Linked DNA regions of Homo sapiens: regions 1, 2, 3 and 4 are each linked to region 5. Evidence: fine-mapped expression QTL. A gene starts in region 5. Each other region holds a variant in brackets. All regions are shown on one strand. Distances are from middle to middle.

Region 1 (5,988 bases), 64 kb before region 5:
TGCGCCCTGACCCCGACCCCCGACCGCCCGCAGGGCCCGGCGACACTCAGACGGGACGTTCACCAGCGAGCTCAGCCGCCTGCGGGAGGGCGCGCGGCTCCAGCGGCTGCTACAGGGCCTGGTGGGGAAGCGCAGGTGAGGCCGGGTGGGGTGGGGGGTCCTGGCGTGGTGCCCCAGCAGCAACGCGCGACCCCCCAGCTCCAGGACTAACTCTGTTTTGGGGCGGGGGGCAGCGAGCAGGACGCAGAGAACAGCATGGCCTGGACCAGGCTCAGCGCGGGTCTGCTCTGCCCGTCAGGGTCCAACATGCCCATCCTGCAGGCCTGGTGAGCACCCGCCCCACCGCAGACCCCACTCCAGACCCCACCCCAGACCCCTCCTTCTGTCCTGGCCTCCCCGGGTCAGCGCTGGTGGCCACTGGAGGCCCAATTCCAGCAGCGGGGCCGGGGTCTCCAGCCCCAGCCCTCAGACCCTCACGTGCTGTCTCTGCAGGATGCCCCTGGACGGGACCTGGTCTCCCTGGCTGCCCCCTGGGCCTATGGTTTCAGAACCAGCTGGCGCTGCTGCAGAAGGAACCTTGCGGCCCAGATGAGGAAGGAACCCCCTCACCACCTGCCCGGCCCAGGAGCGCAGCTGCATTTGGGGTGGGGGGCAGGATGGGGGAGAGGGGGAGGGGTGGTACTTGGCACCAATAAAGGAGGAATCAGACCCAGACGCTGGGAGTTGTCTGTGTCCACTCAGTGTAATCGAGGCAACCCCTGTGTAGCGGGGCTGAGGGATGGATGGAGGCCCATCCACCCAGGAGGGACTGACCACACCCAGCTGCCCTTTACACCTGCAGGCACGGCGGCCCCTCATCCTTATCTCTGGCATCAGGGCCACCTCCTGTACCTCGACTAAGTACTGCAGGGCCCCGCCCCACCCCTTGTCATCCATTAGGAAACATTCTGGGGCTCGGGGGATCCCGGACACCCTCTCAGCTCCTGCCCGGGGGCCCATGTGGTCAGTGTTTCTGTAAGGGGTAGTGGGGAGGGTGTGAAGGGGCCAGGGGGGCTCAGGCGGGCAGGAAGAGGGGAGGGTGGAGGTGTCACCTGGGGTGCCAGGAATCCACTCTGGCGTGAGGACTCCGGACCCTCTGTCTCGTGTGGCCTCGGACCAGTGGCTTGACCCCTCAGAGCCTGTGGAGCACGGAGCGTGCAGGGCTTGAAGGCGACCATGAGGGCACCGTGCAGGGTTAGGACACTGAGCCCAGCCCCAGCCATGAGAGGCCAGAAGCTTCGGCGCACAGGCCTGGAGGAGGAGAACTCCACCTACCCCTCACGACAGCCACTTCCTCGCCCCGACCCTACCCAGTGGCCTCTCCCTAGAGCTGGGGGCTTCTGGGGGGCCAATGAAAAGAGCAGGGCAAGTGTCGAGTCTCACCTCACCCCCTCTGTCGGGCACCAGGGCCCCCCAGGAACTCCCAGCTGCCCCTCACAGCCCCGCCTTAGCCTCAGTCACTAAGGCCCTGTCCAGCCCCGCCCTGAGAAGCCGACTTGTCTCTGGGGCAGGCAGGGGTGTCCCCAGGACACAGTGAGGAGAGCCTTTTCCTTCAGAACCTGCTGTCAGGCAGGGAGGGAGGTGCTCCCTGGGGAACACCCGGGTTCTGAGCCTCAAGGGGTGGCCTTAGGAACTTTGCCTGAGGGAGATCTTAGGGGAGGAGCCAAGCCAGGGCAGCCTGGGCTAGGGAGGCAGGTTCCAGACACCCCGACACCAAGGGCCGAGCCCCCGCCCCCAGCCCCCAGCTTCTCTCCCACACCCTAGCCCTGCCCCTGCCCTGCCCCTACCCCCACGGCACCCATGAGCCGCTCTCCAGTCCCTTCTGCCCTGTGCCTCGGTGCCTGTGACCTGAGCCCCCTGGTTGACCCCTGCACTCAGTCCAACTTGGGCCAAACGACTGCCCCTCCTTCTGGCAGTGGGCTGGACCAGCCGGCCAGCGGGAGCCCCCTTGGCAGAAGCCGGTCGTAAAGGATCATAAACTGGGCGGCGTCTGGCTGGGGCGAAGGTCGCTGAGGTAGGAACTGCGCCAGTCCTAGACGCCAGACCCGCTCAGACCCTCCTGCCAGGTGACAGCCGCCAAGATGGGGTCTTGGGCCCTGCTGTGGCCTCCCCTGCTGTTCACCGGGCTGCTCGTCCGACCCCCGGGGACCATGGCCCAGGCCCAGTGTATGTGCGGGCAGGGGTAGGTGGGGCACGGGCGGCGGGGAGCCAGGGGCTGGGAGGCACTGATCCCTCCTCTGCAACCTTACAGACTGCTCTGTGAACAAGGACATCTTTGAAGTAGAGGAGAACACAAATGTCACCGAGCC[G/A]CTGGTGGACATCCACGTCCCGGAGGGCCAGGAGGTGACCCTCGGAGCCTTGTCCACCCCCTTTGCATTTCGGATCCAGGGAAACCAGCTGTTTCTCAACGTGACTCCTGATTACGAGGTGTGGGCGGCAGGCGGGCGGGATATGGGGGTCCCGGGAGAAGGGCACCTGCATCCTCAGGCCACACCTCCCTTGGGGGCCTAGGAGTTCTATGCCTGCGGGCATCCACTGACACCCATGCTTGGTGGTGCCTGCCCTAGAAGGCTGGGCCATTTCGGGATGAAGCTGCCTGGGCCCACACCCTCAGCACTGACCACTGATGATGGGGACCCTGGGCCAGCGCCTGCCCACTTGGCCTCAGTCTCCCCACCTGTGGGGCAGGACGGTGACTGCAGACCTGTCTACATCCACAGGAGAAGTCACTGCTTGAGGCTCAGCTGCTGTGTCAGAGCGGAGGCACATTGGTGAGTCCCCGCCCCGCTCTCCCCGCCCCACCCGGCCACCTCTGCTGGGCTCTGCCCTGCCGGTCCAGGACCAGTCTTTGATGACGTCAGCTAGGGTGTGGTTTCAAATTCCACCCCCCCGAGGGTGATGCCCACATTTCCTCCAGTCCAGACTCTGCCCTGAGCTGTGGAGTCCCCGTCACTGACCCCTTGTCCAGCAGACACCCCATCCAGTGTGCCCAAGACTCCCACCCACTCCCTCAACCATCCACAAGGGAGGCACCTTTATCCTGCCAGTCACGGGGACCACCTTGGTTCCCACTCGCCCTCCCTCCCCACGTGTCCCCCACAGCCCCCCACTGGTAAATCTGTTGGCTGTGCCCCAGCTCGACCCAGAAATCCAGAGTCTGTCCACCTCCAGTCCCATCAGGGCCGGGACACCAGCACTCATTTTGGGAAACTTCCAGCTGGCCCACCGGCTTCCCTGTTGCCCTTTGCTGGCCCCAGTCCACTCCACGTGGCAGAACAGCCCCTGTGGATGTTGTAAACCAAGGCTGCCCAGCCCACCCCAGCCCTCCACGGCTCCTTTCTCACCGAGTCAAACCCAGACATACTGTGCAGAGGCTCCACTGCAGCCTCAGGGCTCCCGCCAGGCACGCCCCTCCCTCACCGGCTCAGGACTGCAGTCTTCAGAGAAATCCCAACCACCCTATGCCCTGTTGCATCCCAGCCCCGCTCCCCCAACATCCTGCTTCTTGACCGGCGGCATTTTTTTCGGCTTTATTAAGGAAAATTGCAGAATCCTGAGGCCAGCACAGGCCCCCTCACCTACCAGCACACAGCAGGCTCTGTGCCCTCCATGCACCACGGCACGTCACCTGCACATATCTTGGGATATGTCTCTGAAAGAGAGAGACTCTTTTTTGAGACAGAGTCTCACTCTGTCACCCAGGCTGGCGTGCAGTGGAGCGATCTCGGCTCACTGCAACTTCCGCCTCCCGGGTCCAAGCGATTCTCCTGCCTCAGCCTCTTGAGTAGCTGGGATTACAAGCATGCGCCACCACGGCCGGCTAATTTTTGTATTTTTAGTAGCGACGGGGTTTCTCCATGTTGGTCAGGCTGGTCTCAAACTCCTGACCTCAGGTGATCTGCCCGCCTCGGCCTCCCAAAGTGCTGGGATTACAGGTGTGAGCCACCGTGCCCGGCTGACAATCCAGTTTCTTCACAAATAAATCTCCAGGAAAAAAGATGGGAGAAAGGGAAAGGTACAGATGAACAGAAACTCAGGAGAATTACCAACCAGGTCCATAATGTGGGCCCTGATTCAAACAAACAATTGTTAAAAAACCCTTCAGAGACCACGGGGAATGTGGCATCCTGGACATTTGAGGTAGAAAGTGACCGCTTTTCCCAGGTGTGACAACGACATTGTGGTTATGTTCTAAAAAGAAGAGTCCTGGCTGGGCGCCGTGGCTCACACCTGGAATCCCAGCACTTTGGGAGGCCGAGGCGGGTAGATCACCTGAGGTCAAGAGTTCGAGACCAATGTGGCCAAAATGGTGAAACCCCGTCTCTACTAAAAATACAAAAATTAGCTGGGCATGGTGGCAGGCACCTGTAATCCCAGCACTTTGGGAGGCCGAGGTGGGCAGAGGCCGAGGCAGGAGAATCGCTTGAACCTGGGAGGCAGAGGTTGCAGTGAGCCGAGATCACACCACTGTACTCCAGCCTGGGTGACGACAGAGCGAGACTGTATCCAAAAAAACCCAAAAACCAAAAAACAAAAACAAAAACCAAAAAAAAAAAAAAACAGAGAAAAGAAAATGGATTGTCTTTCCTCACCTGAGATTCTGCTGGCTGCATCCCCAAGTACCTGCATTATTTTTCTGTGGAGCACCTGCCACCTCCTGGCTTTATAAAGTCCTTTTTGTCTGTTGTTATAAGTCCTGCCAGGACAGGCACCACCAGGCAGAGATTTGTCTCTTGTGATCTCTGAATCCCAACGCCTAGAGCTGTGCAGCCCCTGTAGCCCCCCAACAACTGAATGAGCGAGTGGACGGATGGCCGTCGAGGGGTGCACCCCACTCACGGCGGGGACGGGTGGCCGTTGAGGGGTGCACCTCACTCACGGCGGGGACGGGTGGCCGTTGAGGGGTGCACCTCACTCACAGCAGGGACGGGTGGCCGTCGAGGGGTGCACCTCACTTAGGGCGGGGACAGGTGGCCGTTGAGGGGTGCACCTCACTCACGGTGGGGACGGATAGCCGTCGAGGGGTGCACCTCACAACGGGGAGGGGCTGTGGGAGAGGCTGACGGCCACATCCTGCAGGTGACCCAGCTAAGGGTGTTCGTGTCAGTGCTGGACGTCAATGACAATGCCCCCGAATTCCCCTTTAAGACCAAGGAGATAAGGGTGGAGGAGGTGAGGCCAGCGAAGCCGCGGGGACTGGGCACGGGGGTGTGGGAGCCCAGGGTGAGGGCAGGAGGTGAGTGGTGGCCGGGGGCTCAACCACAGTGGGGGTCCACAGGGGCCAAGAGTGTGGCCGGACCAAGCCCCTCTCCCTCCCCAGGACACGAAAGTGAACTCCACCGTCATCCCCGAGACGCAACTGCAGGCTGAGGACCGCGACAAGGACGACATTCTGTTCTACACCCTCCAGGAAATGACAGCAGTCAGTGCCGCCCACCCTGCCCCAGCACGAGCCCCTCGCCTCTGACACCCACAGCCGCCCTCGCCCTCCAAGGCTCTTAGGCTCTGTCCTCCCTGACCCTCCCCAGGGTGCCAGTGACTACTTCTCCCTGGTGAGTGTAAACCGTCCCGCCCTGAGGCTGGACCGGCCCCTGGACTTCTACGAGCGGCCGAACATGACCTTCTGGCTGCTGGTGCGGGTGAGCAGGTCACCCCAGCCCCGAGTCCCACACACTTGAGGCCCCCCGGCCCCAGCTGCTCCCAGGCCTGATCCAGCACAGCCGTCTGTTGCAGGACACTCCGGGGGAGAATGTGGAACCCAGCCACACTGCCACCGCCACACTAGTGCTGAACGTGGTGCCCGCCGACCTGCGGCCCCCGTGGTTCCTGCCCTGCACCTTCTCAGATGGCTACGTCTGCATTCAAGCTCAGTACCACGGGGCTGTCCCCACGGGGCACATACTGGTAATGGGGAGGGAGGGGCAGTGCACGGGGCAGGGCCTTCTAGGC
Region 2 (5,956 bases), 30 kb after region 5:
GCCTGCGGTCAGCAGCCTCCCTTGTGCCCCGCCCAGCACAAGCTCAGGACATGGAGGTGCCGGATGCAGGAAGGAGGTGCAGACGGAAGGAGGAGGAAGGAAGGACGGAAGCAAGGAAGGAAGGAAGGGCTGCTGGAGCCCAGTCACCCCGGGACCGTGGGCCGAGGTGACTGCAGACCCTCCCAGGGAGGCTGTGCACAGACTGTCTTGAACATCCCAAATGCCACCGGAACCCCAGCCCTTAGCTCCCCTCCCAGGCCTCTGTGGGCCCTTGTCGGGCACAGATGGGATCACAGTAAATTATTGGATGGTCTTGATCTTGGTTTTCGGCTGAGGGTGGGACACGGTGCGCGTGTGGCCTGGCATGAGGTATGTCGGAACCTCAGGCCTGTCCAGCCCTGGGCTCTCCATAGCCTTTGGGAGGGGGAGGTTGGGAGAGGCCGGTCAGGGGTCTGGGCTGTGGTGCTCTCTCCTCCCGCCTGCCCCAGTGTCCACGGCTTCTGGCAGAGAGCTCTGGACAAGCAGGCAGATCATAAGGACAGAGAGCTTACTGTGCTTCTACCAACTAGGAGGGCGTCCTGGTCCTCCAGAGGGAGGTGGTTTCAGGGGTTGGGGATCTGTGCCGGTGGCTCTGGTCTCTGCTGGGAGCCTTCTTGGCGGTGAGAGGCATCACCTTTCCTGACTTGCTCCCAGCGTGAAATGCACCTGCCAAGAATGGCAGACATAGGGACCCCGCCTCCTGGGCCTTCACATGCCCAGTTTTCTTCGGCTCTGTGGCCTGAAGCGGTCTGTGGACCTTGGAAGTAGGGCTCCAGCACCGACTGGCCTCAGGCCTCTGCCTCATTGGTGGTCGGGTAGCGGCCAGTAGGGCGTGGGAGCCTGGCCATCCCTGCCTCCTGGAGTGGACGAGGTTGGCAGCTGGTCCGTCTGCTCCTGCCCCACTCTCCCCCGCCCCTGCCCTCACCCTACCCTTGCCCCACGCCTGCCTCATGGCTGGTTGCTCTTGGAGCCTGGTAGTGTCACTGGCTCAGCCTTGCTGGGTATACACAGGCTCTGCCACCCACTCTGCTCCAAGGGGCTTGCCCTGCCTTGGGCCAAGTTCTAGGTCTGGCCACAGCCACAGACAGCTCAGTCCCCTGTGTGGTCATCCTGGCTTCTGCTGGGGGCCCACAGCGCCCCTGGTGCCCCTCCCCTCCCAGGGCCCGGGTTGAGGCTGGGCCAGGCCCCTCTGGGACGGGGACTTGTGCCCTGTCAGGGTTCCCTATCCCTGAGGTTGGGGGAGAGCTAGCAGGGCATGCCGCTGGCTGGCCAGGGCTGCAGGGACACTCCCCCTTTTGTCCAGGGAATACCACACTCGCCCTTCTCTCCAGCGAACACCACACTCGCCCTTCTCTCCAGGGGACGCCACACTCCCCCTTCTGTCCAGGGGACGCCACACTCCCCCTTCTCTCCAGGGGACGCCACACTCGCCCTTCTCTCCAGGGGACGCCACACTCGCCCTTCTCTCCAGGGGACGCCACACTCCCCCTTCTGTCCAGGGGACGCCACACTCGCCCTTCTCTCCAGGGGACGCCACACTGGCCCTTCTCTCCAGGGGACGCCACACTCCCCCTTCTGTCCAGGGGACGCCACACTCCCCCTTCTCTCCAGGGGACGCCACACTCCCCCTTCTCTCCAGGGGACGCCACACTGGCCCTTCTCTCCAGGGGACGCCACACTCCCCCTTCTGTCCAGGGGACGCCACACTCGCCCTTCTCTCCAGGGGACGCCACACTCGCCCTTCTCTCCAGGGGACGCCACACTCCCCCTTCTCTCCAGGGGACGCCACACTCCCCCTTCTCTCCAGGGGACGCCACACTCCCCCTTCTCTCCAGGGGACGCCACACTCCCCCTTCTGTCCAGGGGACGCCACACTCGCCCTTCTCTCCAGGGGACGCCACACTCCCCCTTCTCTCCAGGGGACGCCACACTCCCCCTTCTCTCCAGGGGACGCCACACTCCCCCTTCTGTCCAGGGGACGCCACACTCGCCCTTCTCTCCAGGGGACGCCACACTCGCCCTTCTCTCCAGGGGACGCCACACTCGCCCTTCTCTCCAGGGGACGCCACACTTGCCCTTCTGTCCAGGGAATGCCACACTCCCCCTTCTCCCCAGCAGCCTCCGAGTGACCAGCTTCCCCATCGATAGACTTCCCGAGGCCAGGAGCCCTCTAGGGCTGCCGGGTGCCACCCTGGCTCCTTCCACACCGTGCTGGTCACTGCCTGCTGGGGGCGTCAGATGCAGGTGACCCTGTGCAGGAGGTATCTCTGGACCTGCCTCTTGGTCATTACGGGGCTGGGCAGGGCCTGGTATCAGGGCCCCGCTGGGGTTGCAGGGCTGGGCCTGTGCTGTGGTCCTGGGGTGTCCAGGACAGACGTGGAGGGGTCAGGGCCCAGCACCCCTGCTCCATGCTGAACTGTGGGAAGCATCCAGGTCCCTGGGTGGCTTCAACAGGAGTTCCAGCACGGGAACCACTGGACAACCTGGGGTGTGTCCTGATCTGGGGACAGGCCAGCCACACCCCGAGTCCTAGGGACTCCAGAGAGCAGCCC[A/G]CTGCCCTGGGCTCCACGGAAGCCCCCTCATGCCGCTAGGCCTTGGCCTCGGGGACAGCCCAGCTAGGCCAGTGTGTGGCAGGACCAGGCCCCCATGTGGGAGCTGACCCCTTGGGATTCTGGAGCTGTGCTGATGGGCAGGGGAGAGCCAGCTCCTCCCCTTGAGGGAGGGTCTTGATGCCTGGGGTTACCCGCAGAGGCCTGGGTGCCGGGACGCTCCCCGGTTTGGCTGAAAGGAAAGCAGATGTGGTCAGCTTCTCCACTGAGCCCATCTGGTCTTCCCGGGGCTGGGCCCCATAGATCTGGGTCCCTGTGTGGCCCCCCTGGTCTGATGCCGAGGATACCCCTGCAAACTGCCAATCCCAGAGGACAAGACTGGGAAGTCCCTGCAGGGAGAGCCCATCCCCGCACCCTGACCCACAAGAGGGACTCCTGCTGCCCACCAGGCATCCCTCCAGGGATCCCTCATTGTCCACAACTGCTGGAGAACAGAGGGCTCCGTGTCTGGCTGTCCCACAGTGAGCAGCAGTGAGCGCATCTGAAGTCTGAGCTGCTGAGACCCCCTCCTGCAGGAACCCATCTTCTGGCAAAAACCTGAACTGAGGATCACCCTCTGCCCACACCCACAGGGGCCCATCCTGGTGGCTCCTCCAGTGCCAGGCTCTGCCCCATCAGGGTCTGGGGTCTCAGCCAGATTTGTGTCCAGGGCAGGGAGGCTGCAGAGGTTAGGTTGGGTCCAGCACAGGACAGGGCTGGAGAGCACAGCCAAGGAAGGTCGGGTCCGTCTCCTCCCCTCTGACCTCGGACGTCTCGCCTGTCAAATGGCGTGAGTTCGTATCCACCCCACGGGGTCGCCGTGAGGTGAACGAGACAGTCATTTTCATAGTCCGTGTGGAACAGGCACCCGCTGAGTGCTCAGGGATGGCCCTTGGCAGCCACGTGGAGGCCAGCGCAGGCCACCTGTTAGTGACTGTCACCATACCATGGGGGAGGGCAGCTGTGTTGAGACCCACCTCTCACCTCCGGACGCAGAGCCCCCCCTCGGACACCCACTGTGTCTCCAACTGCTCCGCACACAGCCGGCACTTGGCACCGGTGACGTCATGGGGTGGCTGCACACATCACAATAGGGCCCCGCGCAGGTCAGCTGGGCCTGGAGTCAGCGTCCTCCACCCCCTGAACTGGCAGCATGTGTGTGCACGTGTATGTGGGTGAACGTGTGCGTGTGTGTGTTTCTTCTCCAGCTAGGCCTGGCTGCCCCACTAACGTGCACACAGGTCCTTGTCACTGTCACCCCCGTGGCTCGAGACGATCGTCAGAGCACCCGCGGAGGCACCACACTCGGCCCTCTCCACCCGGGGTGGTCCTGGGGATGCAGACGCGGGGAGGGGGTTGGCCCCCTTCCTCGGTGGACTCAGGTCTTCTGTAAAGGGCTGGGTTCAGTGTCCCTCTGTCTCACCTTCTTGAGCCCTGCTGGGTGTCATGAATGTCCCCCCTTGCTGGAGGCCCTGCGGACAAGCCCCCCTGCCTGAGGTCCCCTAGCAGCCAGCTGACCAGGTCCCACTGATTGACAGGCCCTGCTGGGCTGCCGAGGGGGTGGAGGAAGCCTGTGGGGAGGTGGGGGACTCACCTGTGTGACGTCAGCTTCTGTCCCGGGCGCCGCCTGCCCGTCGGATCACATCCCTGCTCAGGACTCGCCACCAGCTGCCTCCTTACGATGGAGTGATGGAGCCCTCTGATAGCTGAGAGTCCGCCACAGCGATCCCACAAGGCCACGCGTAAACTCTCCCAACATCCATCCAGGGAGGCCTGGATAAAAATGTAGAGTTTCAGGCCGGGCACGGTGGCTCAAGCCTGTAATCCCAGCACTTTGGGAGGCTGAGGCGGGTGGATCACCTGAGGTCAGGAGTTCAAGACCAGCCTGGCCAACACGGTGAAACCCTGTTTCTATTAAAAATACAAAAATTGGCCGGGTGCGGTGGCTCACGCCTGTAATCCCAGCCCTTGGGAGGCCGAGGCGGGCGGATCACCTGAGGTCAGGAGTTCGGGACTAGCCTGACCGACATGGAGAAACCCTGTCTCTACTAAAAAAATACAAAATTAGCCGGGTGTGGTGGTGGATGACTGTAATCCCAGCTACTTGGGAGGCTGAGGCAGGAGAATCGATTGAACCCAGTGGGTGGAGGTTGCGGTGAGCCGAGATCGCGGAATTGCACTCCAGCCTGGGCAACAAGAGCGAAACTCTGTCTCAAAAAAAAAAAAAAAAAAATTAGCCGGGCGTGGTGGCGGGCGCCTGTAATCCCAGCTACTCGGGAGGCTGAGGCAGGAGAATGGCGTGAACCTGGGAGGCAGAGCTTGCAGTGAGCCAAGATAGCGCCACTGCACTCCAGCCTGGGGGACAGAGCAAGACTCCGTCTCAAAAAAACCAAAACTAAACAAAACCCTTACCCTATCGTTTTGCCAAGTGCATGACTCTCTGCTGTGAGGCAGTCAAACTCAGAAGCAGAAAGTAGGGTGGCCGTGGGCAGGGGCTGGGGAGGGGAGCTGGGAGTTGCTGTTCAACTGATAACAGATTTCAGTCTGGGAAGATGCGTGAGTCCCAGAGTTCACTGCGCAAGGTGCTCGTGGTTAGCACAGTGCCACACGGCACGTTGCAAATTTTTTTTTTTGAGATGGAGTCTTGATGTTGGCCAGGCTGGCATGCAGTGGCGCGATCTCAGCTCACTGCAACCTCTACCTCCTGGGTTCAAGTGATTCTCCTGCCTCAGCCTCCTGAGTAGCTGGGATTACAGGTGCCCGCCACCACACCCGGCTAATTTTTTTGTATTTTTGTAGAGACGGGGTTTCACCGTGTTAGCCAGGATGGTCTGGAGCTCCTGACCTCATGATCTGCCCGCCTCGGCCTCCCAAAGTGCTGGGATTACAGGCGTGAGCCACCGCACCTGGCCAGTCCCAAAATTTCTAACATTAGAAGATTGGTGTGTGTGCCTGTGCATTTTTGCTGAACAATATTTCTTTTTTTTTCTTTTTTTAGACGGTGTCTCGCTCTGTCGCCCAGGCTGGAGTGCAGTGGCGTGATCTTGGCTCACTGCAACCTCCGCCTCCCAGGTTCAAGCAATTCTCCTGTCTCAGCCTCCCCAGTAGCTGGGACTACTGGTGCCCACCACCATGCCTGGCTAATTTTTGTATTTTTAGTAGAGACGGGGTTTTGCCATGTTGGCCAGGCTGGTCTCCAACTCCTGACCTCAGGTGATCCACCCACCTGGGCCTCCCAAAGTGCTGGGATTACAGGCATGAGCCACCGTGCCCGGCCACTGAGCAGTATTTCTTTGTAGGGATGTAGCACAGGTTGTTCACCTGCTAAA
Region 3 (5,988 bases), 34 kb before region 5:
ATTCATAAGAAGCCCTAACCCCCAATGTGACAGCAGATAGACATGGAACCTTTAAGGTTATAGGATTGGTGTCCTTAGATGAGGGAAGGCCAGGTGAGGTCACAGCGGGGAGGCGGCCGTCTGTAAGTCAGGAAGGGGGCCTCCCCAGGAACCAGGCCTGCTGGTATCTCAGATGTCTAGTTTCCAAAACCAAGAAAAGGAAGACCTGCGGTTTACGCTGCCCAGCCTGTGGTATCCTGACAGCAACTGAGCTGGCTGCGACACACGACACACACCCACAGGCCGACAGTGGCTCACACTGAGCTCCTGCGGTAGGTGCTGCCTGTGGGGCCCCCTTCCCAGAGAGCTTGTCTCCCCCACCCTCACTCCCGGGTTTTCAAACATTGCACCTCACACCAAGCCACTGAAGAAGGCGAAGGTTTCTTTGCTGAAAGGAAACTATGTTTTAATTGTTTCTATCGAGCCTTCTGGGAAGGTAGTTTGGGAAGTGCTGCCACTGGTATGAGGTATATGTGCCCCTCCAAGCAGCCGAGGCTCGGGAGTCTATGCAAAGATCCTTGAAACTTCATCCCAAAGACCCCAGACAGCCCTGAGTAAGGCAAAAACAATCAAGGGAAGGGAGTCAAGCTGATGATTTCCCTGAAAATTGAGCCTGAATTCAACTGAACTTAACTACCACTTACCACGGGCTGAACTGTTCTAGGATCTAAGATACGAGTTAAACAAGAGTAAACCCATTCTCCCAAGAGTCCTGCACCTATGAGAAGGTGTCTGCTGTGTGGCCCTTGCTAGGGCCATACAAGAAAGACAGGAGACAGGCATGCAGGAAGAGAAGCCGACTGCCCCGGGCACACGACACGCCCTGCCAGGCCAGCAGAGGGGGGCGGCGGGTGGGGGCACTCCAAGAGCCTAACTAGGTCCCCTAACATCTGTTCTTATACAAGTTCTCTGGGGACAAAGGCAAGGATGAGCAGTACCTTCTTTCAAAGAATTCCAAAGTCTGAAAACGTCCAACCCACTTTCCCACCACTGAGCTCCAGCAGCCTTGGAGGAGGCTGCGGCTCACCTGAGGCCCGAGCAGAAGGCCCCTCTGCGCCTGGCAGGCGCCCATCCACAGCCAGGCCAGGCCTGTGTCCCCCACACTCATCCCCGAGAAGAGGAGATTGGCTGCAAGTTTAAATACGAGCACGGGGACAAGGAGGGCTGCCGAGACCTGCCCAGCTACGGTGCAGGCACCCATGGCTCCACCTGCACAGGGAGCTTGGTGGCCCTGCAGCTGAAGGTGCTCAGATCTGACCTGCCCAGGGAGGGGAGGGCCACACCTAACAGGCCTCAGTGAGCCCCTGCACTGCCTCCCTGGTGAACACACACTTTTAAATTAGATTGTAACTTAAAAAAGAAAAAAATCAGAAACTGTATCTTATTTCATGTAATGTCAGTGTATCTACAGATAGTGTTTTTTTGTTTTTTGTTTTTAGTCTCTCTGGAGTGCAGTGGCGCAATCTCGGCTCACTGCAACCTCCGCCTCCCAGGTTCAAGGTATTCGCGTGCCTCAGCCTCCCAAGGATCGGGGGTTACAGGTGTGAACCACCACGCCCGGCCAATTTTTTTATTTTTAGTAGAGACGGGGTTTCGCCATGTTGGCCAGGCTGGTCTCGAACTCCTGAGCTCAGGTGATCCACCCGCCTCGGCCTACTGTGATTCCATTTTGACATGAGGAACTGAGTAATTTTAGACGTGTGATTTTTAAGTCAGACTTAACTGAAAATTTGGCAGACTGCAAATTGTAACAGTATGGAAATGTTTAGAAGTATGAGAATCGTTATATTGATCAGTTTTAATGTTTTAGATCCACCAGGGTTTTTATGTACTTGCGTTGTTTTATCTGCCAAGTAATTCAAGTAGTGTAGGTAGAAAGAAAATCAATATATCAAGTTTGTAAATGTAATTTATAATAAAAAATTTTAATTAAGCTGTAAACATTCCCAAGAGCCTTGTTAGAAGGTACTACAACTAGGTTGGGCATAGTGGCTCACGCCTTTAATCTCAGCACTTTGGGAGGCCGAGGTGGGCGGATCAATTGAGCCCAGGAGTTCCACACCAGTCTGGCCAACATGGTGAAACCCCGTTTCTCCATAAAATACAAAAATTAGCCAGGTGTGGTGGCATGTGCCTGTAATCCCAGCTACTGAGGAGGCTGAGGCAGGACAGTCACTTGAACCTTGAACCGAGGTTGCAGTGACTCGCTGCAGAGGTTGCAGTGACTCGCTGCAGAGGTTGCAGTGAGCCAAGATGGCGCCACTGCACTCCAGCCTGGATGACGGACCAAGACTCTGCCTTGAAAAAAATAAGTAAATGAGTAAAATAAAAGCTAACAGGAAAACCAGGCTTTGTGCGTGAAAACTGGCCTACCAGCTGCCCTCGAGCCACTAGAAGGCTCACGGCCCTGGCCTGCGATGAGGGCCTTGCCCAAGACGGTGCCTGTGGCGACCAGGACCAGGTCTATCATGCCATGGTCTCTCAGGCCGTGTCCAGCGATTCCAGGCCAGCCCAGGCCCTTCCTTCACATGCCCAGAGTGGCCGCAGCCACAGGTAAAGAGGACAAAAGAGGACCAGTCCTACACATGGGCATGGAGTGCTGAGCCACCCCTCCACCTTTTTTTTTCTTTTTAAGCATTCTGCATATATTCACGGTGTAAGTCAGTAATCAACAGCCAATAAGCACTGTGCCCAGGGCTGCAATGACCAGGCTGCTGGGATAGTCAAGGCAGCAGCCCTGCCCTTCAGACTCACAGCAACCAACTCAGTGCCTGCCGGGGCAACTGGCAGCAGACGCTCCCAGGAACCCTGAGGAGGTGAGGACCGTCAGGGCAGAGCACTCAGGAAACTCACAAAACATGGATTTAGGCTCAGACTCGTGAGAAAGGAGGGACGGCGAGGTGTCTGCGAATGTGAGCAGAGGCGTGGCTATCTCCCGGCTGCTGGGAGCAGAGGGCAGGACCAAGCAGGGGCTGGGGACCTGGAAGGGCCGGCGGAGCGCACTGCAAGGCCCCTGTACTCCCACAGGCCATGAGGAGGAGGGCGAACTGACGATGAGACAAACGTGGTGGCCGCCTGCAGGACCCCCAAGGAGGCCCCTGCAGTGTCTGCAAAAGGACAGCCAGCGATTCCTGCACCAACAACAGCGTGAGTGGAGCAGAGGCCTGGGTATGTGGCTAACAACGAGGTGACAGGTGGGGGCACAAGCGGCTGTGCTCAAGGACGAGTCAAAGCTGGGACGACCGGGACCACCCGCCACAGAGCAAAGGCCTTCACCAGGAGCCCATCCTCGGTGCGGCTCCAGCCGCGGCACGTCAAGGCCTCCTGGCTCCGGCTGTTCCGTAGTCCAAACCCTGACCCAGCTACTTCCCACCCAAGAGAAGGCCCCAGATCGAGCAGCCTCACTGGTTCTTTCAACAAGGGAAAGATTTCCAGAATCCTCTCTCCATAATTTCACAGCAGAAAAATTATTCAAATCAACAGGGAAAGCCCCTCGCAGGAGGCTAACGGGGAAGGGGGCATCTGCTTACAGCCAACGACACAAAGCAGGGATGAGGAGACAAGTGTCACAGGCTCCCGGGAAGCCAGGGCCACGCAGGGCCAGAGCAGGCGCTCTCAGCTGTGCCAGGGAGAGCAGCAGGTGCAGCATAACTGGACATGCACCAGAGGGTGAAGGAGGAGCAGGGTGAAAGGTGA[G/C]GGACCAAGGCAGCCAGAATGATGGACGCAGGCATAGCCACCCCTCCCCCACAAAGGCCGGGACCAGGACACGTCCCACCCTCTGGCTGACCAGCCCCACAGCCTCCTGTCCGGCTGTTTTCTTTTTTGTCTTGATGTATTACCTGCACTTCTGTGGGCAGCCTCAGAATGTTTTTTGGGGAAAGACTGAAGTGTAAATGAGTGTAACAGGAAGGCCCGCAGGACTGAACCGCGCTGCTGAGGGTGGTGAGCACAGCTCCAGGTGCTGGGACTCAGACTTCACAGAGCGAAGAGGCTCTGCATCCCTCCTGCGCCTGGCCCGCCTTGCACGCAGCAGGGCACGTGTGCCAGTCCCAACCGTCCCTTACCCCGCATCGCAGCCGTCGCAGAGCAAAAGCCTGTCCTCACGGTCGCTCCTGCCGCACACCTCACAGAAGGTCGGGTCCTCCTCCTCCTCGCTCGCTTTGGTGTTCTCCACTGGGATCTAGGACAGAATCGTCGGTCACCACCACACAGGACCCAAACTCCCCGCAGTCACTTCCCAGCGTGAAACGCAGTTAATCCAGAATCCACCCATTGCCTTAGATTCATATTTGGGCTCCACAGGCCCAGAGGGTCTCCCTCCACGTGTACACAGGGATTTTTATGTTTTCTACCATCTCAGGGTGGTGATCTAAGAGGAAAGTATTCAACAGAAAACAAAGTATGATGCACGGAAAGGAGCGGGTAAGCCCTGCGGCCCCAAAGTGGGCCGCAGTAGGGCGAGGCAGCAGGTGCTGGACTGCCACGGAAGAGCAAGATCTGCCTCTTAAAAAAAAAAAAAAAAAAGGCTGGGCACGTTGGCTCACGCCTGTAATCCCAGCACTTTGGGAGGCCGAGGTGGGTGGATCACGAGGTCAGGAGATCGAGACCATCCTGGCTAACACAGTGAAACCCCGTCTCTACTAAAAATACAAAAAATTAGCCGGGCGTGGTGGCGGGTGCCTGTAGTCCCAGCTACTCGGGAGGCTGAGGCAGGACAATGGCGTGAACCCAGGAGGCAGAGCTTGCAGTGAGCCGAGATTGTGCCACTGCACTCCAGCCTGGGCAAAAGAGCGAGACTCTTGTCTCGGGAAAAAAAAAAAAAAAAACAGCCGGGTGTGGTAGCTCATGCCTGTGGACCCAGCTACTCAGGAGGCTGAGGCATGAGGATTGCTTGAGCCCAGGAGATTGAGGCTGTAGTAAGCTGTGATTGTGCTACTGCACTCCAGCCTGGGTGAAAGAGCAAGATGGTGTCTCAAAAATAAAGAGCTCCGAGCAGACGGGCCAGAGCACTGCTCCCAGATGTGATGGGTACAGGGGTGGGGTCGAAGGGATATCCCAGGAGCTGGCAATATCTCTGCCTCTAACCCCCAACCCAGACCCCAAACCCCCCAGACAGGGCTCATGGCCACAAGGGGCACTTGAGTTGATTTCTATGAAGCATTTAACCAACCCTCATTTCAGGAGAGCAAGCCCACTTTGGAAAGCATGCTCTGTCCCACAGGGCCGGGATAGAAGCACGGCTGGGGCCTCCACGGCAGCGTCCACACTCACCTTTCTTAAGATTTTACCACCAAATTGAGCTCGAATACAAATGCACTTAAATAGAGTTCGATCAACTGGACAGGAATTGGCATTCTGTGAGAAATAAAAACAGGATCAGAATCTTGTCAATCACTTTCACTTAGAGATCAAAAATTCTTTTACACTGAAAATCAAGTATCTGCTAAATGCCTCCATGCGCCAGGCCCTCCACTAAGCTGCTGGCAACACGGCAGTGGAGGGAGCACAGCGAGCCTTGCCTCCCTGCAGAGCTGCCAGCCCTAGCGGGGAGGAAAGAGCAGCTCCATGAACGCGTAGCATCTCAGTGACAAGTAAGAACAATAAAGGGAGGAAGGACAGGCGTGGGGGCGGCATTGTGCACAGGCCCCTCTGCGGCGAGCCTGTTCAAGTCTTCTGCTAACTTTTCCAAAAGATTGTTGGACATTCACTAGTAAATTTTTAGAATTTCTTTTCATAGGCCGGGAGCAGGGGCTCATACCTGTAATCCCAGCACTTTGGGAGGCCGAGGCAGGCAGATTACCTGAGGTCGGGAGTTCGAGACCAGCCTGACTGACACAGAGAAACCCCGCCTCTACTAAAAATACAAAATTAGCTAGGTGTGGTGGCGCATACCTGTAACCCCAGCTACTCGGGAGGCTGAGGCAGGAGAATCGTTTGAACCCGAGAGGC
Region 4 (5,988 bases), 110 kb after region 5:
CAGCACAGGCTCCCATTCACATGCAGAATCCCAGGAATAAACGCAAAGCTCAAGGGATGGGGTGAGCAGCCTGTGTCCCACCAGCACCAAGTTCCACAGCACACAAAGACAGGATCACACACTAACACAAGTTAAAATTGAAACTTGACTTCTTTTTTTCTTTTTGAGATGGAGTCTTGCTCTGTCACCCAGGCTGGAGGACACTGGCGCGATCTCTGCCTCCCAGGTTCAAGCGATTCTCCTGCCTCAGCCTCCCAAGCAGCTGGGATTACAGGCGCCCGCCACCACACCCAGCTAATTTTTGTATTTTTAGTAGAGACCGGGTTTCACCATATTGGCCAGGCTGGTCTTAAACTCCTGACCTCGTGATCCACCTGCCTCGGCCTCCCAAAGTGCTGGGATTACAGGCGTAAAACTTGACTCCTTTAATACGACTTTCCACGACAGAGACCTTCCTGTGGTTTCTAAAGTGGCCACCAACCCAACACTCACTCCTTGTGTAGCCCAGGGAAACGCTGATCATTGATCAACCCTAACCCAACACCATCTTTCCATTTCCCCAAAACACAGAGATTACCTGAAATATAAAGGTAACCCTTCGCCCCTTCAGGTAAATGTGCACACTGTCATTGAGGTGGCCACCGAGTGCCCAGCACCCTCCTGGCCCTGGGGAAGCAGAAATGGGAATGAAGAGGACCCAACAGGAAGGGAGGCAGAGGGTAAGGGACCCAGAGAAAGGGCACCAGGCACAGCAGCCCTGCAGGAGGACACATCTCAGAGCTGCTCAAATCCAACGCTCCTGGAAAGTAAGGTCCGTATTAGTGAGCTCCAGTCCTTGTCCTACACGCAGCACGACGTCTACACATCTTGGAAGTGACAGAGTGCCGCTCAAGATAGCATGAGACTCTCAAGGGAAGAATTCCGTGTCCCTCCCAGGACGCCAGGTCTGTTCAATGGCTCCTCCCACCCGCCTGCAGACTCTGCAGGACGGTGTATGTCCTGTGATCAGACACAGAACAGAGCTGTGATCAATCCTGGCAATTCAGCCACTTCACTAGGGTGAGGGCGTGAAGACAGCTGGCTCCCTGCCATGGGGAGTGGAAAAGACCCAGCTGCCTCCTTGGAGATGGTCACTCTCATGTCCACTCTCATGGTGGGCAGGGAGGCCGAGACCAAGAGGAAAACGCGGCGTCGTCGTCCAAAGGGCCAAGGAAAGGCCACGCCTGGATGGGCAGCCCAAGGCCTGCGAGAGGCTCCTGGACCGGGCACTGGCCCTTCTGGCTCTGACCAGCAAGACCAGAAAGACTTCATCTGGCTACTCGCGCCTCCCAGGTGTAGGCAAAGCTGGGAAAGCCCCGATCCAGGATGATGGAGAAAGGCATCTTCCAGAAACCTGGGGTATCTGAAGGTCAGAGGTCACCTCACACATAAAGTCCTCAGGTCACTGAGAAGGCTCATTTGAGGCACCCCATTCCAAGACACAAGCATACAATAAAAACTCTCAGAACATCACAGTGGCCCCCAGCTCGGGAACTGGTTAGCAAGTGTGGTCATCCGAAGCTGCTTCAGCGTCTCCCACAGACAGGCGGCAACGTTCACAGGCACCTCGCCAGGGTAAGGGGTCCCCAAGTGTTCTCCCAAACAATTTCCAGACCGCATGAGCTGCCACATCTTCGCACAGGGCTTCTCGGAGTCTGTGGATCTAAACGTTTTCCTCTGGATGTTCCCCATAATTGTCCTTGCTACCCTGAATGAATCCAGAGAAGGAGAGCTCAGCCTCGTGCTCCCAGGGCCAGTCAAGCCCTGAATCGAACCGCACGCCCTATCCCTATGGCTGACAAGCAGTCACAGAGAAACAAAATTCACACATGGCCGCCGTCACTGGCCCGAGGAAGTGCACCCATCCTTGAAAATGAACGCCCTGGCTGGATGTGGTGGTGCATGCCTGTAATCTCAGCAATCTGGGAGGCTGAGGCGGAAGGATCACTTGAGGCCAGGAGTTGAAGACCAGCCTGGGCAACACAGGGGGACCCTCTATTAAAAATAAATAAATAAATAAAAATGAATAAAAAATAAAAAGTAAAACTCTCTAAAACACAAAATTAGAGTTAAAAAAATGCCAGCACAGCAAGTCAGTGCAGGTGGACTCAGGAGGTCAGTGTGAGGCTCTGCAGGTAATGAATTCTCACCAGGCAGGCATTGAGTTACCTGCCACCCAGAAGCGTGAAGCTCCTTCCTCTGCACAGGGAAGGGAGGAGGCACAGCAAGAACCTGCCCCATGCGTCTCTACAGGGACAGGGTCGAGGGGAAAGCCAGAGCCAGAGCCACCCACCCAGAAGACCCAGGAAGGAGGTACCTGGACCAGCCAGCCCCGCTGCACCCGCTCCTGGAGAGCCCTCCTGACCCCCTTGGCCTCCTGACAGGCAAGCTCTGCTGCGCCCAGCCGTCTGTGTCCCAAACACCCCTTGTGGGCAGGGACCACTGGTCTGGGCTTCTAAAGAGACCGGCCCCCTCCTACCTTTGGGCTGCTGCTCCTGCTTCCCTGGTACTGGGTGGGCTGCGCAGGCTTGCATGTGCCCCCTGGCTCCTGCCACACTCAGCACCCAGCCAGCACATTTTGAGCCTTCTGAAGTTCCATGCCTGCACCAGAATCTAAGCTTCTTGTTTAGTTCTCTGCTATGTCCCGTAGAACGGTAACTGACAGGCAGTAGGGGTCCCCACAATGTGCTGAACGGCCAAATGAGAAACAAGAAGAGCCAGTCTGGTCTCCTCGCTCCGGGACCTCAGAGGAGCCCGTCTGTTCTCCTTGCTCCGGGATGTCAGAGGAGCCCGTCTGGTCTTCTTGCTCCGGGACCTCAGAAGAGCCAGTCTGGTCTCCTTGCTCCAGGACCTCAGAGACTCCGGTGGTCCCCAGCTGTGCTGCGGGAGGACAGCCTGAAGGGGTGTGGCAGGGCACCTGATGGAGAGGCCTGATGTCCACAGGGCCCGGAAGCCAGAGGGTCCACGTGGCAGGCACCCCATCTCCTCTCCCTCCCGAGGGCCCCGCAGCCACCCGGTACACTCATCTCCCCAAAGGA[G/C]AGCTCGGATGCCCTCCCTGCAACAGCAGCTGCCCACACCTCACGGAAGACCCTGCGTGGGGCCTCCTCCACCCTAACCTGCTTTCCCACCACTTGGACAGTCTCTCTCCAGAGCTTCGGCTGCGGTGACAGGCCAGGACCGGTTAAGTCCCTGTCTGTGGTGGCGCCTTCCCCTGACAAGTCCCTTACTCCTCCATCAGGCCCTCCTCGCCCCTCAGATTTGCTCTCCGACCATCCCACAGCATGGTTCTCTTGGAAGCGTCCATAAAGCCTTCCTTCCACTGCTGGCCGCAGGCGCCTGTCTCCCACACGTTTTCCTGGGGCTGACCCCACCTCTACTGCCCCTGTGCCCCCGGGCCTTCCACAGGATGGGAACTGGGCACCTTGCAGTCAAGAAGAGCCAAACCCTCCTCTCACGAAGCCTGCTTTCAGGTCGACGGCTTGATCCTTCTCACAGAGGAGCATCGGCAAAGGGCCAGCCCAGGGTCGCAGCTGTCGGGAGTAGGAGCGGCACCTGGAGCCTGTCTGGACACAGAGTGCCACACTCCAGCTGCTCCCGGGGGCCTCTTCCTTTTCCACCCCCATTAAAGGCAGAGTGGCGGACAGGGGGACCCCAAGGTGTAGCTAGGGCTGAGTTGTGCAGGGAGGAGGCGCTGGCCCCGCTAGGGGCAACTGAGGAGAGAAACAGAGCCTGGATTCGACGAACACCGACTACATTCCTGAAGCACGCACAACACTCTGCTAATCAACACGATCGCCACGTGGGGTCGGGCGCGACACACAAGATGATTTCGTGCAGCCGCAAGCACTGAGGAGCAACCACAGGCAGAATGACGGGGGACACAGGTGAAGCTTCGACAGCAGGACAGAGAAAGCGTTTCTGGGGTGACGCTGGAGGCGGGTGGCGGGGAAGGGGTCTGGATCGCAGAACCGCGCGGTCAGAGCCAAGGCGGGCAGGGGTGGGGAGGGCGGCGAGAGAGACGCAAAGCGGCCGCAGGGAGGGTCTGCCCAGGGTCTCCCCCACCTACAGCGCCGCCCTCCGCCCGACCCGGCGTCGGGAGCTCGGTCCGGCCGCTCCCCGGGACCCGGGGGGCGGTGCTGCCACACCCTCAAACCCCCGGCCACAGTCCTGGACTCCAAGACGGCGAGAGGGCGCTGCCGGGGACCCCCAGGCCAGCGGTGCCGGAACCCCCAGGTCGAGGGCACCCTCGCCGCCCCGCGGCCGCCCACTGCCCTCACCAGAAGAAGGTGTTGGTGCCGTCGTCGTAGACCTCGGACTCGGTGCTGCGGCGGCCCTCGCCCGGCCCGGTGGCTTGGCCGGCAGACGGCCCGTCAGGCGGCTCCTCCAGCGAGGCCCTGCCCGCGGGCACCGGGGACTCGGGCCGCGGACCTCCGGCGTCCCTGCGCTCGCCCCTCCGCATGGCGTTTCGGCCCGGAGCCACTCCGCCCGGCGCCTCGACCCCACGCACACCGGGTCACCGGCGAGAGGACGCGCCGCACACAGCGCGAGGAGCGCTGGGAAGGGGTCGCGGCGCTGGCCCGCGGGGTCTTAGGAGAGCAGCGCGGGGCCGGCCAGTAAAGGGTGTGCGGTGCATTGTGGGGCTTGTAGTCCGCGCGGGGCATGCTGGGCCTTGTGGTCCGACGTCGCGGGTTGGACGCAGTGCTTGCTGGGAAGGATGACGCCTGGTTGCTGGGAAACCGGAGCCGGACCGCCCTGCGGCTGAGGTCGCAGGAACCAAGCTGCGGATGGCGCGGGTCTCGCCAAGGCCTCCAGAGCTTGGAGGTAACCACAGACATCCCCGGCGGCCTGGCCCGAGTCCCTCCACCCCTTCGCCCCTTCCTCGCCGACGGATCCCGGAGCCCAGCCCCGTTCTCCTTTTGGGGCGCTTCCCGACCCTTCACCCCATGCGACCCGGGTCATTCCTTTTTGAGACGGAGTCTCGCACTGCCGCCCGAGCTGGAGTGCAATGGCGCGATCCCGGCTCACTGCAACCTCCGCCTCTCGGATTCAAACGATTCTTCTGTCTCAAGCTTCCCGAGTAGCTGGGATTACAGGCGGCCGCCATCACGCCCGGCTAATTTTTGTATTTTTAGTAGAGACGGGGTTTCACTATGTTGGCCAGGCCAATCTCGAACTCCTGACCTTGTGATCTGCCGCCTCGGCCTCCCAAAGTGCTGGGATTACAGGCGCGAGCCACCGCGCCCGGACCGGTCTGGGTCATTCTTTCGCAGGATCGCGTGAAATTGGGCGGGCGAAAATGGTGCGGACACGCTGATTTTAGTTGACCCAAATTGTTGACATGGTACCCTGCAAAAAAATTAGCTCCTGAGCCACTCTGAAAAGCAATGTGGCAGCTCCTCAAACCTGGAAACAAGTGTCCACGCCAAATTTACACACTAGCGCTCCTAGTTGCAGCATTTTGATAATAGCGGCATGTTATTAGCCATAGAGGAGCGAAGCATGCGCATGCTACAGCACAGCTGGACCTTGAAAACATTATGCTAGGCAGGCCGGGCGCGGCGGCGCACGCCTGTCATCCCAGCACTTTGGGAGGCCAAGGCGGGCGGATGACTTGAGGTCAGGAGTTCGAGACCAGCCTAGGCAAAGTGGTGACACCCCATCTTTACTAAAAATACAAAAATTGCCCTGGCATTGTGGCGGGCGCTTGTAATCCTAGCTACTCGGGAGGCTGAGGTGGGAGAATCCCTTAAATCCGGGAGGTGGAGGTTGCAGTGAGCCGAGATTGTGCCACTGCACTCCATCCTGGGCGACAGAGCGAGACTCCGTCTCAAAAAAAAAAAAAAAAATGCTAGGTGAAAGAAGCCAGTCACAGGAGACTACGCATTATGTGATCCATTTGTATGAAATGTCCAGGAAATGCAAATCTATGAAGACAGAAATTAGATGAGT
Region 5 (5,087 bases):
GCAGGTGGCCTGGGCGCCCACTGGACACTCTTGTGGCAGCAACTGCCGCTCCTTCTCCCGAAGCCGCTGCACAAGCACAAAGCGGCCAGTCTGGCCTGGGAAGAAGAGGAGAAGGTCAGCCTATGTCCCCCCGACTCTCTGTCCACCTGGCTTGAAGAGTTGGGAAGAACAAAAAGGATCAGCAACCAGCCCCACTCTCCTTGGGGGAGACCATGGAGCTGGACCACCAGGTCCCACTTCAGCTCTACCTGCCCGGCCTGCCTGACCCCGAGAGGACTCACCTATTGCTTGGGCTAGTGCGATGACCACTTCCTGGCAGGTGGTCTGCTCTGAGACCCCACAGACCACACGCTGGATGCCATCCACCCACACCTTCAGCTCCATGGCCGCCAGTCCCAACAACATGCCTGTCCTGTGGGGAGGGCGCAGGCACCGGGTCAGGACCTGCCTACTCCTATCGCAGGCTGGTCCTCCTCTCCTCATCCTCTTGGCCTGCCCTAGAAACGGCTGGGCTGCCGCCCCTCCGCACGGGCCCCACCCTCCTGTGCCAGCCCCACCCGCCAGCCACACATTCCTGGGGTGGCGGCCCTCCGGAGCACGCATCCTCCCCCACTTCACCAGCTTCCTCTTGCCACGCTCGCACTCCCGGAACAAGGCGAATCATTAACCAGATCCAGCATTTCCTACTCGCCTCACCTGGCTCGGAGGACACTGCCCCCTCCCCGGGCGGCGCGGAGGCGCCCGCACGCCAGGCCCCGCGGCCGCCGGCATGGGAACGCCCCACCCCGACCTGCTCAGGCCGCAGAGGCGCTCGGGGTCGCAACCCAGACCTCGACCCTGCAGATGGAGCAGACTCCGGGTCTGAGCAGCCCCCGCCAGCCCGGGGAGCCCCGCCGCTGCCGCCTAATCGCTGCGCTCGCCCCGAAAGTCCCGGTCCCCGCCGCGGGCACCGAAGCCCGCGCCGCGACCCCAGCCTGGCGGGAGCCAGGGCGTCCCCGTTCCGCAGGGCGGGCGCAGGTGCGGCGCCGCCCCCGCTCTCCGTCCGGGCATCGCGGAAAACTCTCCCCAGTTGGAGTCGGCGTCCGGCCGGCTCGAGGCGCGCCCCGCGCTCCCAAGTACCGGGGACCCGGCGCGGCTCACCTGGGCGCTCGCCAGCCTGGAGACCCGCTCCGGCGCCGCCGCAACCTGCCGCCCCCAGCGCCGCGGCGCACCCGGGCCCCGCGCCCCCATTGGCCCGCGGTCCGCACGCCCCGCCCCTAGCACCCCTATTGGCTGCTCAGCGCGGGCGTTCCGCCCCCTCCCCGCGCCCATTGGCTGCCTCTGTCACGCCCCTCCCCGACCCATTGGCTCGTCGCCGCGCCCCGCCCCCCCCGAGACTACAGGTGTGGGCGGGTCGGAGGGGGGCGCCGAGCCGCAGTCCCCGCCCCCACCTCCCGCCTACCGCGAAAAACGCGGAAATGCGGTGGCTGCGGCCCGCGGGCAGGCGTCGGGGTAGGTGTCTGGCCCCGCTCCTGGGCCGACTTCCTCAGCAGCCTTCTAGTGTGGCGGGTTCCCGCCCAGGAAGGGTCTCTGGCTTGAGATCCCGCAACCCCCGCCTGCGTCCAGGGGCAGCGGGGCCAGCCCCTCCCCTCGCTTCCCGGGCCAGCCTTTGGGGCCTACCGCAGCTGCAGTAGTCTGGACGCGCAGGGGTCGCGGGGTCGCAGGGTCACCAGTCCCGGCGAGGGAGGTGGAGCCCTGCGGAGCTGGCGGGCGCAGAGTCCTGGTGCGGGAGGTGCCCGCTCAGAAGGCCCGGACTCTAGCTGAGGCTCTTCTCCGACACCTTCCTGCCCCTTTTGGACCCAGTGCCAGGCCATGCACACAGTGAAGCTGGCTGGAAGCCGCTCCTTCACCCCCTACCCTACTGTCCCGCCCAGGGCCCCGCAGCCTCGCGGTCAGCTGTGTGGGCCATTGATTGTTCTGCCCAGCTCAGAAAGAGTTGTGGGCGTGGGCCTCCTGCCCGCCTGTCTCCTGTGCTCCCCCAGGGAGCCCTTACATAGCCGAAAGTTGCAGAGATGAAGGGTGAAAGCTGGAATGATTGGGTTTTAATGGGTCAGGTCTGGGACCTGGCTTTTCTCCTGGAGCAGAGGGAATACTTGTCATGGTAATGGGGTAGCCCAGAGGGTGTGGACACGGCTGGGAAAAGTGAGGCTTCAGTTTGGGGGTCAGGTAGGTGAGTGCCTGTCACTGAGGTCAAAGGAGCTGTGGGCTGGGCCTGGCGGTGGAGGCGGGTGCCTGTAGTTTCAGCAAGTCAGGAGGCGGAAGTGGGAGGATCACCTGAGCCCAGGAATTCGAGGTTAACGTGCGCTGTCATCACACCGAAGCATTCCAGCCTGGACAGCGGAGCAAGACCCTGTCTCTAAAGAATTAATTATTAATTTAAAAACAGGCTGTGGGCAGGAGTGTACTATTGCCAGTTAGCGTTCAGCACAGTCCCCAGCTTGTCACTGTTACCTGTCTGCTTCCCCCACACACCCATGGCTATGCTGGGCTGGCTCACAGGCAGCAGTGCCCCCCTATTTATCCCGCTGCTGCTGCCAGGCTAGGTAGGGGATGCTGGGGCCTCCCTCAGGGTGTTGGTCACTAAGTGGTCCCCCCGCTAAGCTGAGCAGTGGCTCAGCCTCTCACACCTCCTCCAGGCTGGGCTGGCCCAGAACTCACCTAGGGGCCTGGTCTGGGGTCTCCCTGGAGGCTCCTGGTAACAAACAGCCCCACCCCTTCTGGGTGCTGGTATCCATGGCAACGGTATACAGCCCTTCCCTCCCAGGCCTGCTTGGAGGTCGGGCCTCAGGTGAGTGCTGGGGGTAGGGCCCTGAGCTGGGGGGACAAGAGAGAGAAAGAGGGACACCACATCACAGGCAAAGGGCCAGCACCTGGGTGGCAGGGGTACACGCCAGGGACATGTCGGGTGGTGACCTGCTGCGCCAGCCTGGTCAGAAACACACGGGTGTGGACACCCACATGTGGGTCCCTTCAGAGAGCAACGCTCTGTGAGTAAGTGGTGACGCCTGGGCTGCTCCAACCTGTGTGGCCACACGAGGCGCACACGGCAGACGGGCCCCCCACCCCTCCCAGCTCCCGAAGAACATTGAGAATGGCCCCCAAGTCTGGCCAGGAGGTTGAAGAAACCGAGGAAGAGGCTCTCCTGTCCCCCACAGAGCAAGAGTCGGTCAGTGGTCACCTGGGACCTCCAGCAGGCGCACCTGCAGCCCCCGAGACTCCCACGTGCCTGCCAGACACCACGCCCCACCCCGCACCGGTGGTCTGCTCTGCCGACCCGCAGTAAGGAGGAGAGGGAGGACTGGTGAGCCTCCTGGGCCAGGTGGCCAGGGGCCGGCCTGAGTAAGCAGCAGGGTCTGCTGCCGCTGCAGGTTGGCTCTTGAGTCCCTGGACCCTCGCACACTGCGGCTGCTGTGGAGACAGCGAGAACTGGAGATCCAGGCCTTGCGGTGGGCCATCCAGAATGGCGAGGACGCCCGGCTCTGCCACATCCTGGAAGAGGTGGCGGGGCTTCCGCCCAAGAGGTCTGCAGCACAGTCCCCAGCCCAACCCAACCCCGCCCTGTCCTCGCCCGGACTCCTGGTTTCTGTCTGACCCCAACCCCAACCGCTGAGGCAGATCCTTACCCTCATCCTTGCCCGCGCTGACCCTCCACCCTGATCCTAAGTTAACACGCTATAGCCTCCACCCTAACCCTGCGCATGTGGATGGGTGCTAGACCCTTGTCCAGACCAGCCGGAGGCTGGCCAGCCCCAGCGGGGCTGTACTGTGTGCCCTTGGGGCCAAGGTGGCAGTGGAGCCCCTCCTTCTCCCCTCCTTCGCCACTGACCTGACATTAGGAACCCCTGCCTGAGCAGGGTGGGGGCTGCTGAGGTCACCCCTCCTCCAGGAGCTCCCACAGTCAGGAGAAACTCCTGCAGAACCAGGTCCAGAAGCTGATCCAGGAGTTGAAGGAACAGAAGGAGCGAGCCCAGTGGGTGAGGCAGGGGCACAGGGAGTGGGCAGGGTCCTGGTGTTGGGGAGCCAGGCTGGGGCTGGCCTGGGGGCCTTCTGCAGAAGACACCCCCCCACCACCAACCACAGGCCCTCTCGGAGCAGGAGAAGGAGCACCTGGAGGAGCGGCTGCTGCAGACCACCCGCACGCTCCAGGAGATGGAGGCCGAGCTGCAGAACTTGCAGAAGTCCTGCCTCCTGCAGCTGGCCCGCTCCTCGTGGGTGGGCCGCATGCTACGATCCCAGACTGGCAGTGTGGAGGTGAGCCTGTCCCCCAAGCCCTCCTGCCCCAGGCTGCCCTCCCCAGCCCTCCCCATCTCGTCGGGTGCCTCTGCTGGGGCGCCCTGGCCTGCCTGGAAGCCTGCCCTGCTCAGGTGCCTCTGGAACTCTGGGCTCCAGCAGGGAGGAATCAGGAGGCCTCAAAGCACAGGTGAGGTCAAAGAGGAGAGGTGCTGTAGGGGAGCACCCAGCCCCTGCCCACTGGCTTCCGGTCCCCTCTTGCAGGTAGTGACGGCAGAGACTCTGATGGACCCAAGCGACCTCTCTGAAAACATTCAGGCCCCCACCGGGGAGGTGAGCTAGGCCTCCCACGTGTGTGGTCTGGTATCTGGAGCCCTGCGGGAGGGGAGGACCATGTGCCTCTTGCTTCCTGGCCAGGGCTTTCGGCTGGAGGACGTGGATTGGAACAGCGTTGCCCGCCGGTATCCCAACCTCTTCACCAACATGGAGCCCAGCTCAAAGCAAAAGTAACTGCACAGAGCAGGGACTCCCCAGGGGCCAGAAGGGAGGGCTCACCTTGGCAAGTGAAGACGCAGGACACTAAAGGACCATTTAGTGTCCCTGGATAAGTCTCTTAAACCTTCCAATGCGCGTTCTCTGATCTGTAGAATGCGTTGGGGTTGAGGCAGCCATCACTGTCCTGCCATGAACTGAGCCTGGGTACTGGGAGGCAAGAGGGGCTCCCTGCTGCACTGCCTTGTGAGGCTGGACGGGGGCAGGGCTGGGGTCTGGAGCTGGAGTGGCCATCAAGCAGAGCGTGGTCCACAGGCAGCCCCGGC

What was found. PIP is the estimated chance that this variant, and not a neighbour inherited with it, causes the effect.
Region 1: its variant is fine-mapped to the expression of LMNTD2-AS1 in sun-exposed skin (GTEx, PIP 0.96).
Region 2: its variant is fine-mapped to the expression of LMNTD2-AS1 in whole blood (TOPMed, PIP above 0.99).
Region 3: its variant is fine-mapped to the expression of LMNTD2-AS1 in tibial nerve (GTEx, PIP above 0.99). The same link has a PIP of 0.9 or more in gastroesophageal junction.
Region 4: its variant is fine-mapped to the expression of LMNTD2-AS1 in whole blood (TOPMed, PIP above 0.99).

What each region holds. Positions count from the first base shown.
Region 1 is chr11:621,035-627,022 of GRCh38, reverse strand. It overlaps CDHR5 (cadherin related family member 5), which reads left to right and starts at 2,068. Exons shown (of 15, transcript NM_021924.5): 1 at 2,068-2,205; 2 at 2,291-2,466; 3 at 2,760-2,810; 4 at 5,119-5,211; 5 at 5,360-5,461; 6 at 5,568-5,678; 7 at 5,773-5,943. The coding sequence starts at 2,121. SCT (secretin) reads left to right here. Exons shown (of 4, transcript NM_021920.4): 2 at 34-135; 3 at 234-326; 4 at 493-714. The coding sequence ends at 592. RefSeq lists a silencer at 1-214 and an enhancer at 1-308. The variant G/A (reference allele first, on the strand shown) is at 2,349.
Region 2 is chr11:526,603-532,558 of GRCh38, reverse strand. HRAS (HRas proto-oncogene, GTPase) reads left to right here. Exons shown (of 6, transcript NM_005343.4): 6 at 37-317. It also overlaps a transcript of LRRC56 not described here. Among named protein-coding and RNA genes, the nearest start is that of HRAS, 6.0 kb to the left of the region's middle. RefSeq lists an enhancer at 3,517-4,054. The variant A/G (reference allele first, on the strand shown) is at 2,592.
Region 3 is chr11:590,790-596,777 of GRCh38, reverse strand. It overlaps PHRF1 (PHD and ring finger domains 1), which reads right to left. Exons shown (of 18, transcript NM_001286581.2): 5 at 5,311-5,394; 6 at 4,104-4,219. Among named protein-coding and RNA genes, the nearest start is that of PHRF1, 17 kb to the right of the region's middle. RefSeq lists an enhancer at 778-1,277. The variant G/C (reference allele first, on the strand shown) is at 3,736.
Region 4 is chr11:448,966-454,953 of GRCh38, reverse strand. It overlaps PTDSS2 (phosphatidylserine synthase 2), which reads right to left and starts at 4,675. Exons shown (of 12, transcript NM_030783.3): 1 at 4,317-4,675. The coding sequence starts at 4,498. RefSeq lists enhancers at 1-27, 4,611-4,890, 4,489-5,175 and silencers at 3,991-4,080, 4,091-4,150, 4,341-4,580. The variant G/C (reference allele first, on the strand shown) is at 3,078.
Region 5 is chr11:557,087-562,173 of GRCh38, reverse strand. LMNTD2-AS1 (LMNTD2 antisense RNA 1) reads right to left here and starts at 2,912. Exons shown (of 2, transcript NR_147607.1): 1 at 2,698-2,912; 2 at 2,068-2,395. LMNTD2 (lamin tail domain containing 2) reads left to right here and starts at 1,436. Exons shown (of 14, transcript NM_173573.3): 1 at 1,436-1,491; 2 at 3,195-3,318; 3 at 3,408-3,560; 4 at 3,926-4,013; 5 at 4,135-4,290; 6 at 4,534-4,602; 7 at 4,687-4,775; 8 at 5,077-5,087. The coding sequence starts at 1,458. RASSF7 (Ras association domain family member 7) reads right to left here and starts at 1,204. Exons shown (of 6, transcript NM_003475.4): 1 at 697-1,204; 2 at 282-412; 3 at 1-95. The coding sequence starts at 405. RefSeq lists enhancers at 1-401, 4,663-5,087.